2 linked regions of the Homo sapiens genome follow. The protein of the gene in region 1 purifies or fractionates together with the protein of each later gene. This does not show direct contact. Each region holds a gene or a part of one and is shown on either strand. Other genes may lie near its edges.

Region 1 (5,368 bases):
ATGTGGTGTGAAAGGAAGGAAGTGGTGATAGGACCAATACAGACACTGGGAAAAAATGTGGAGGGTGTGAATACAGAGATGATAAGATTACTCCAGTATGAAAAAATCTGTATTTGGTGCCAAGTTCCAGGGAGGTGATTGTAGGAAATGCATACATTTGGTTGTAGTTGATCAGCAGAAAAAGATTGCCGGCGGTATTGACTATTTTGTGAAGTGGCGAAGAAAGCAAGCTAAACCAAAGAGAACACCATGCAACTTACGGAGAGGCTGGAATAGCCAGTGAGATAAAATCAGTGATCCAAAACTTATAATTTTGATGAGAAAGGAAAGGTGATATTGTAATCTCTGCATTTTTGGTAACGAACTTGTAGAATGTCTGGAATGCATCAGAATGTTTCTACAGATGAAGTTCTTAAGAGAGGGAAGGGAAACCCTTTGCTGGTTTTATTTGCTTCATTTAACTGAAGATAGAGTCTCCCTTTTTCTCTGAGGCCATATCAGGACAGCTTTCACAGGCTTTTGATGTGGTTTCTTTTTTTCCTTTACAAAACATACTCCATAAACTACAAAGTAACTGTTTTATGTTGTAAAGCAAGACTTACTTCTCCTTTAAAAATAGGCCTACACATATGCAATTTGAGAATAAAAGATGATTCTTGGCTTTCTGCTTGCGGAAAGATGGAGACTTATTTTTCCTTATTCCTCCCATGAAGTACATCTAAAAACACTGGACATATATAAAACAAATGTAAGAGTGGGCCGGGTGCAGTGGCTCACGCCTGTAATCCAAGCACTTTGGGAGGCTGAGGCGGGCAGATCACAAGGTCACAAGTTAGAGACCACTCTGGTCAATATGGTGAAACCTTGTCTCCGCTAAAAATACAATAATTAGCCAGATGTGCTGTTGGGCACCTGTAGTCCCAGCTACTTGGGAGGCTGAGGTAGGAGAATTGCTTGAACCCAGGAGGTGGAGGTTGCAGTGAGCCAAGATTGTGCCATTGCACTCCAGCCTGGGGAACAGAGCGACACTCTGTTAAAAAAAAAAAAAAAGAGACTGAAAGATGGAGAAAAGAAGGTAGACTTCCTTCGTACATTGGGACCACAGAAATGACACCAAACTTAGTTCTGTGAGTTTTCTTTTTGCCTCATGTATCTCATATGTTGTGCTGGATAAGCTAGCAGCGCAGGTATAAAAGGACTCAGACAAAACAAGGCCCAAGAAAAGCCTGCTCTCTGTGTCTGAAAGACCAGGAAAGGGGCAGCCTACAAATCACAGAACTTTTCGATGGTAAGTACTTTCCTCCAGCTAAATATCACAGGAAACCCTGCAGCACCACCCTCACCCTGCTAATCAGAGAACTTTTCGGCGGTAAGTACTTTCCTCCAGCTAAATATCACAGGAAACCCTGCAGCACCACCCTCACCCTGCTAATCAGAGGCTGAGCAGGTACTTCAGATTCCCACTCATGACAAGCTGGGATGAGATGCTCCTCTCTGCAGGGTTGCTGTCAGAGAAGACTGGCTGAGGAGTTGGGGTTTTACTTCTGCTGGGTGGTGACAGAGCACAGCCTCCTTTCTGCTAGGGTATCATAAGAGGGACCTTGCAAAACTCAGGAACTTTACTGCTGCCCTGTGGTCATGAGGCCACCCCCCTGTGGTGTGGGGGAGACTGTATAGGGAGCAGCACGGAGGCAGCCCTGATTCAGCCTTGGTGGTGGGAGTGGAAGTTCGGCAGGAGGCTGAACTTTCCTTCTCATGCAGGGGTCCGTGGAGGCTGAGTGGGAATCTCAACTTCCACCTCACCGTCCACATCCACCTGGCAGAGGCCTGCTCTAACAGAAGACTTACATCAGATCCTGAGTCTGATGTCAGGATTTCAATGGAAAATCACTCATAGGAAAATCTCAACCTCAGTAAGAAAAGACCACTGATGCCAACGTAGAGATGACACAGAGTTTAGAATTATTTGACAAGGACCTTAAAGCAGCGATTGTAGAAATGCTTCAATAACCAATTAACATTCGAGACAAACGACAAATAGCCTCAGGAAGAAAATACAGGATGTAAAAAAGAAACACAAAATTTCAAAAGTGAAAAATAGAATATGTGAAATAAATTCAGTGGATGGCTTAGCAGCAGAAAGGAGAGGACAGACAAAAGAAGCTGTCAATTTGAAGATAGAACAATAGAAGTTACCCAATCTGAACAGCAGAGAGAAAATAGACTGGAAAAAAGTGAGCAGAGCCTCAGGGGCCCGTGGGACTTTAACAGAAGATGCAACATCTGTCATCAGAGGTCTAGAAAGAGAGAAGGACGGGGTGGGGGGAAAACGTGTCTGAAGAAATCACTGCTGTATGTTTCCTAAACTTGGCAAGCCATACACCTTCAGACGTAAGAAGCAGCATAAACCCAGAGAAGATAAACACAAAGATGCTAAGACACATCCAGGCCAACTTCTGAAAACTGAAGACAGAAGCATAGTAAGAGAGATACCACTTGACCTGTAGTGGGAAACAATTTGAGTGACAATGGATCTTTTTTTTTTTTTTTTTTTTTTTTTTTTTTGAGATGGAATCTTGCTCTGTCACCCAGGCTGGAGTGCAGTGGTGTGATCTCAGCTCACTACAACCTCTGCCTCCCAGGTTCAAGCAGTTCTGCCCTAGCCTCCCAAGTAGCTGGGATTACAGGCATGCCACATCACGCCTGGCTAGTTTTGTATTTTTAGTAGAGACGGGGTTTCACCATGTTAGCCAGGCTGGTCTTGAACTCCTGACCTCAGGTGATCTGCCCGCCTCGGCCTCCCTCACGCTTGCTGGAATTACAGTCATGAGCCACTGTGCCTGGCCTGACAGTGGATCTTATCAGAAATTGTGGAGGGCATAAGGAAGTGGCAGGACATTTTTTTCAGGTGCTGAAGGAAAAGGACTATCAACTCAGAATTTTATATCAAGTGAAAACTTCCTTCACATGATTTATCTCCAGCTGACCTACTCTATGAAAATAACAAATAAAGGAAATTCTCCAAACAGAAAGGAAATGACAAAAGAAATGTGGGAACATCAGGAGGGAAGAACAAAGAATGGACAGCAAAAATATCGGTCAATTTAGTATTCGTTTATTTTCTAAATTGTGTTTGGAATTTGAAGCATAACCGTGGTGTGGTTCTCAGTGTATGTGTAGGAAATATTTGTGATTACGTTATAAATGGGGAAAGGTAAAGAAGCATAGAGGAAAGTAAGATTTGTATACTTTATGTGAACTGGTAAAATGTTGATAATCAGTAGACTACAATAAGCTGTAAATGTATAATGTAAAACCTAGAGCTACCACTAAAAAGTTATACAAAACAGGCAAACTCAGAAATACTGTAGGTAAATAAATATGAAATTATAAAAAATGTTTACCCCACGAGAAGGCAAAAAAGAGAATAGAGGGAGAGAGAATGAATGATACACCATGAACAAGTGCAGTTTATTTTGTGGCTACAAGGTTGGATCAATGTTTGAAAGTCATGAGTGTAATTGGTCCTGTCAGTAGGTAAAAAAAAAAAGCTACTAGGAAAAAAACATGATAGAATTCAGCACTCATTCGTGAAAGAAACTCAGAAAATGAATGATAGAGGGAAACGTTTTCAACTTGATAAACAGCACCTACAAAAAAATCTATAGCTGGCATCAAAGTTAATGGTGAAACACAATATTTTCACCCGAATATTCAGGGCAAAGCAAGGGTGTTTGCTGTCACTATAGTAATTTAAGATAGTACTGGAATTTCTAGCCAAATCAATAAGGTAGTAAAAGGAAATAGAAGGCTTACAAACCACAAAGGAAGAAATAAAACTGTCCTTTTTTTTTTTAGATGACTTAATAGTTGACATAGAAAATCCCAAGGAATCCACAAAAAATCTTGAACTTTAGGTTCAGCAAGAATGTACACGTTTAATACATAAAATCCAGTTGTATTTATACTAGCAATTAACGTGGAAACCAAAATAAAAGTACAGTATCATTTAAACTTACACAAAAAATAAAAAGAGAGATGTTAGTCTAAAATGGAGAAAAGATATGTAGGACTTTTTTTTTTTAGAAACGGAGTCTTGCTCTGTCACCCAGGTTGGAGTGCAGTGGCGCGATCTTGGCTCACTGCAACCTCCGCCTCCCGGGTTGATGCCATTCTCCTGCCTCAGCCTCCTGAGTATCTGGGACTACAGGTGCCTGCCACCACGCCCTGCTAATTTTTTGTATTTTTTAGTAGAGACGGGGTTTCACCGTGTTAGCTAGGATGGTCTCGAAGTCCTGACCTTGTGATCCGTCCACCTTGACCTCCCAAAGTGCTGGGATTATAGGCGTGAGCCACCTCGCCCAGCCCGATACTAGGACTAATGCAGAAAAAACCTTGACATGGAGGAAAGTAAGATCTAAATAAATACTGTATTCATAGATTAAAAGACTCAGCATAATAAATATACCATTTCTCCCCAGATTGATGTACAGATTTAACACAATTCCTATCAAGATCCCAGCAAGATTTTTGTAGATATGTAAAAGATTATTCAAAAATGTAAAAGGAAGGACAAAGGACTAGAATAGATAAAACAAAATGGAGAAAGATTTAATAGGAATCACTGTAACTGATTTTAAGACATACAGAACAATAATAGAAACTGCTTGTATTAGTCCATTTTCACGCTGCTGATAAAGACATACCTGAGATTGGGCAATTTACAAAGGAAAGAGGTTTATTGGACTTACAGTTCCACATGGCTGGGGAGGCCTCACAATCATGGCAGAAGGCAAAGAGGAGCGAGTCACATTCTGCGTGGATGGCGGCAGGCAGAGAGGGAGAGCTTGTGCAGGAAAACTCCCCCTTATAGAACCATCAGATCTTGTGAGACTTACTATCACGAGAACAGCACGGGAAAGACCTGCCCCTCCATGATTCAGTTACCTCCCACTGGGTCCCTCCCACAACACATTGGAATTCAAGATGAGATTTAGCTGGGGACATAGCCAAACCATATCACTGCCGTTGGTGGAAGGATAAATATGTAGATCGGTGGAACAGAATAGAGAACCAAGAAATAACCCCACACAAGTACAGTGAGTTGATTTTTTGACAAAAGTCCAAAGCAGTTCAATCTAGGATGGATCATCTTCAACAAATGAGGCTGGGATAATTGGATACACAGGTGAAAACAAACAACAAAAAAACCTTGACTTAAATTTTACACCTTATAAAAAGGTCAGTACCATATAGGTAATAAATTTAGATGTGAAACAGAAAACTATAAAAAATTCAGGAGAAACAGGAGAAAATGTTTGGCCCCTAGGGATTCATGAAAAGTTCTTGTCATGACTTTAAAAGTGTG
Region 2 (4,433 bases), on another chromosome or scaffold:
GTCGTGTTTGGTAAGGACATTCTAAGGAAATTAGGAAGGCGGGTGCAGGGAAGAAAAAAATGGTATTCATACCTCCTCCTCCAGAATATCACAAGCCAAATGGATGCGGGACACGTCTACTTGGTGGGGCTCTGATTTTAACTTCTTGGATCGTAAACTCCAAAGTTTTATACAGGAGTTGTCAAACCCAGCAGCAAGCAGCTTGCTATCGGGGGAGATTTCTGCAGTGTTCAACAGCTGCTCTGTGTTATAGAAGGCATAGAAGCAGATGGTAGTGAGGGAGGGAGGCCCATCCTTGACTCGCTTAATGCTCTCCTGTAAGACCTCTAGGGCAGCCTCGTTCTGCAGAATAGGGCTGGGCATGTCGGGGGGCTCCAAACCGTTGTTCTCACTGCGGGAGGAGCTGCCACTGGCATACAGCTGATAGTCTGTTCTCTTGGCAGGCTGCACGTCAAGATGAATATGTAAGGTGAGGACTTTGCACAGGGCAGTATTGTTGTCACTTTGGAGGTAGCGGATAAGGTAGTTGTAGCTGTCTTCTTGGAGACGGACCACGTACTTGTTATCTAGGAATGCTCGAAGCTTGAAGTTAGATAGGATGTCCTGGATGGTTTGAGTGGTCTGTAGCTGCTCAATGACATCCTTCTGGCTAGCATTCTGCAGAAACATTCCATGGAAGCGGCTGTAAAAACTTTCCACTGTGCTCTTCGGACTGTTTTGGACCAGGTTGAGATGGAGGTAGACAAAGAGAGGATAGAGGAGAGGCATCACTTCGTGGCTATGCTGGGAATCAGAATCTATAATGAAAGAAAAAGAAGGCTTTATAATCAGCATAATCTTACAGAATAACGTGATCCCTCCTGGGGATCACCACCATCATATAATGCTTTCTTGCCAGGACCCCATTTTTTAAGAGTACTGATTGAACTATAAGCCCAACACAGGATTCTGGAATTTCAAAGGCCTTTTGATTGAAGAAAGAGCATGAACTCTGAAGTCCAGCAAATCAGGGCCTGAAGTTGGGCACAACGCAGGAACTTAATGCCCAGAGTGGTTAAGTGACTTGCCAGAGTTCACAACAATACAGTGGCTTGTACCCAGGTCTTCAAGATTTAGTATTTTTTCCCAATATGTTAGTGTTTCTTCAAATTGGGGACCTCAGATATCTGAGGGTACTTAGACATATTCTTGGAAGATTGAGTTCTTCACAATTTTTTAATGTGATGATAATATAAAAAATAATCAACACACAGTATATTCAGAATTATCTGGATGTCCGCTTAACAAGTAAGTACTGACAAGTGATTTTAGTGCTCTAGTTTGTGTTTTGTGATTACTTTTGGCATCCATTGTCTCAAGTAAAATCAAAGCACTTATTTTAGTGGGCTCATTAACATGTCTGGTTATACAGGCTGGCGTGTCCTGTGTTAACATGACAGCCTTCATTAACAATTGTCTCATCAGCATATTCATTCTGATTTTGTTGGTTAACAAGTTAAATTCTCTTTTGCAGTGATAATTTACAAATAAGACCATTTTACGTCATTAAGACTCAACTACTTACTAACTTGGGAGTTTAGCGCCATGAAACTGTAAGACAGAGAATGTTATTTAAAAGGTGTACAGCTTGAATTCATGGGTGAATGAGAAAAGAACAGAGGTATAATTGACACCTAAATAAGTGCTTAAGGCATGCTGTGAGGGAGCAAAGGTTTCGATGTGATTCATACACAGTGGGGAGACAGCAGGGCCACTGCAGGGCAGAAGCCCCCCAAGGAGCTGAGACCAGCCCGTGTCACAGTCACCAGTGCTGTCCAGATGCCTGCTTGCAGTAGCAAGGTAGTTCTGGCAAAATCCATCCGTTACATTCACTCAGTGTTATTTTCAACTTGACTGCCTTTGGGGTTTTGCTTGTCCCTTATCTGTAATGAGTCTGGGTTTCATAAAGAAATATAATAAGCATAAAGGTTTTAGATCTAGTGTAATGTTTGTACATATTTAAATAAATTAAAATAAAAATGTTTTAAGTCAGCACTTATGTTCTGGTAGCATTTTTTTTTTTTTTCATGAAAAGGCATCAATACAGGGTTTAAGACTGAGGAATACTGCATCAGAGAATCTTGCTCCCTAATTTGATGATAAAAGATATCTGCATGTTATTTCTGCTTAACACCCTATTTCACTTTATCACAAGGTGAATGAATCTGCTGCATAATATTCATAATATGCATTTTAGAATAAATGTATCCCTACTCATTATTTAGAGGATGAAAAATTACAATCATTCCACTGAACTGGAAGTTAAGACAGCCACCCAGCCACTTTGGGCTCCTCACACCTCTGAATCAATAGGCAAGGAAGGGAGTTACAGTGTTGGCTGGGGTAATTGATCCTGCCCAAGAGGAACTGGAACTGCTACACAATGGAGGTAAGGAGGAGTATGTCTGGCTTAAGGAGATCCCTTAGGACATCTCTGTACCCTGCCCTGTGATTACAGTCGATAAAAATGACAACAATCCATACAGGACTATGAATGGCCCACACCCCTGAAGAATGAAGGTTTGGGTCACCCCACCAGGTAAACCACGATCAGCTTGCGAGATGAGTGCAAAGGGAATACAGAATGGGTAGTGGAAAGAGGCAACCATGAATACCAGCAACCACCATGTGACCAGCTACAGAAACGAGGACTGTAATTGTTGTATTTCTTGTTTTGTTACGAATGTTTTGGTGTGAATATCTATATATAGATATATAAAAAGAAAATATCTTCGCATTCTTTCCTTTCTCGTTCCCTTATCATGGAACATCGGATTACTGACTTTATTTTTTTGAGATGGAGTCTCGCTCCGTCACCCAGGCTGGAGTACAGTGGCGCGATCTCGGCTCATTGCATCCTCTGCCTCCTGGGTTCAAGTGATTGTCCTGCCTCAGCCTATTGAGTAGCTACAGGCGTGTGACACCACGCTCAGCTAATTTTTGTATGTATATATATATATATATGTATTTTTTTTTTAGTAGAGATGAGGTTTCATCATGGTGGCCAGGTTGGTCTTGAGCTCCTGACTTTAAGTGATATACCCATCTCAGCCTTCTGAAGTGCTGGGATTAAGGGTGTGAGCCACTGTGCCTGGCCAGATTACTGACTCCATATCATAGTATTTAAGTATTGTTAACTTTACCTCACCGTATCAAAATTATGGAATATCACGGAGAGGAGTAAACATCATCCAAGGACTTTGCATTCTCCTCCGGGGAAAAGGTTAGTGTGTTTTTTGGTTGTACACAGGATAATTTTATTAGGTTAGGTGGAAGTATGAACTTGTTATTCTCTTTATTTGGAGATTAAGTATGGAATAAGGAGATGCATACAGGTGCCAAGTTAATAAGGAGTGGACTTGTGAGGTTACTTTTACATGTCAAACTGTGGGGGGGCCCACGGCACACAGATATTCAGTCAAACATTATTTTAAATGTTTCTGTGAAGGTATTTTTTTTTTTAGATGAGATTAACACATTTAAGTCAGTAGACTTTGAGTAAAGCAGATTACCTTCCATAAAGTGTGGGCCTCATCCAATCAATCAATCAATCAGTTTAGGCTTTAATAGAAAAAGACTTATCTTCCCCTAGTAGAAGGAATTCTGCCAGCAGAGAGCCTTTGGATTTGAACTGCAACACTAACTCTTTCCTGGGTCTCCAGCCTGCTGGCCCGCCCTGATTTTGAATGTGCCAAGCCTCCACAATTGCATGGAACAATTCCTTAAAGTAAACCTCTACATATCCATCCTGTTGGCTCTTGGCTGTTTCTTTCGAGAACTGTGACTAGATTTTGGTTTTTCTTTTCCCTTTGTTTTTTATTGGGATGAAGGATTGTTTTCAATTCCTTAGAAACAAAATTTCAGGCTCCTTTTCTAAAATGAGAGGCATTTCAATTGAGTAAGTTTAGAAAAAAACCTAGCTATCAAGAAATAGTGATGTACTACTTTAAAACTTACTGAAATTCACTGTTGCTTCAGCTCATAGGTTCAAAATTGCTTAATTGCTCTCTCTTGTCTGAAGAGAACAGTATGCTGGGTATAAAACAAAAAAACTGATCAATTTGGAAGAAGGTGAGATTCAGAATTCTAACTCCCATTTTAAATTATTCCCTTGCAATCTAACATACTCTGTATTTTACTGAAAGTGTACTCACTTAAAATATATTTTTTTCTAACTGCAAAAGTAACAAACATATCCTCTGAAAGTACACTTTTTCTTCCTTCTATCTACCCACTGAAATGTAATGAATGCCTACCTGGTGCCCAACTCTACTGGCGGTAAATGAGAGAACAATGGAGTTTTTCATGAGTTCATGGAAATTAGTAGTAAAAAGGATACTAAATTAAACAAAACTAATCCTGTCGGTCCTCATTCTCCTCTACCTTTCTTCAAG

Evidence for each region.
Region 2: the proteins of WDR37 (region 1) and TAF5L purify together in Homo sapiens (affinity purification with mass spectrometry, with the first as the bait; one large-scale study listed by BioGRID). This does not show direct contact.

Annotation. Positions count from the first base shown.
Region 1 is NC_000010.11:1,062,049-1,067,416, forward strand, and holds part of WDR37 (WD repeat-containing protein 37), read left to right. Parts: intron 1-5,368. UniProt on the Homo sapiens protein: Required for normal ER Ca2+ handling in lymphocytes. Together with PACS1, it plays an essential role in stabilizing peripheral lymphocyte populations.
Region 2 is NC_000001.11:229,602,123-229,606,555, forward strand, and holds part of TAF5L (TAF5-like RNA polymerase II p300/CBP-associated factor-associated factor 65 kDa subunit 5L), read right to left. Parts: exon of another isoform or gene 4,296-4,433; intron 4,072-4,295; exon of another isoform or gene 3,997-4,071; intron 798-3,996; coding exon 73-797; coding exon of another isoform or gene 67-72; exon of another isoform or gene 1-66. UniProt on the Homo sapiens protein: Functions as a component of the PCAF complex. The PCAF complex is capable of efficiently acetylating histones in a nucleosomal context. The PCAF complex could be considered as the human version of the yeast SAGA complex.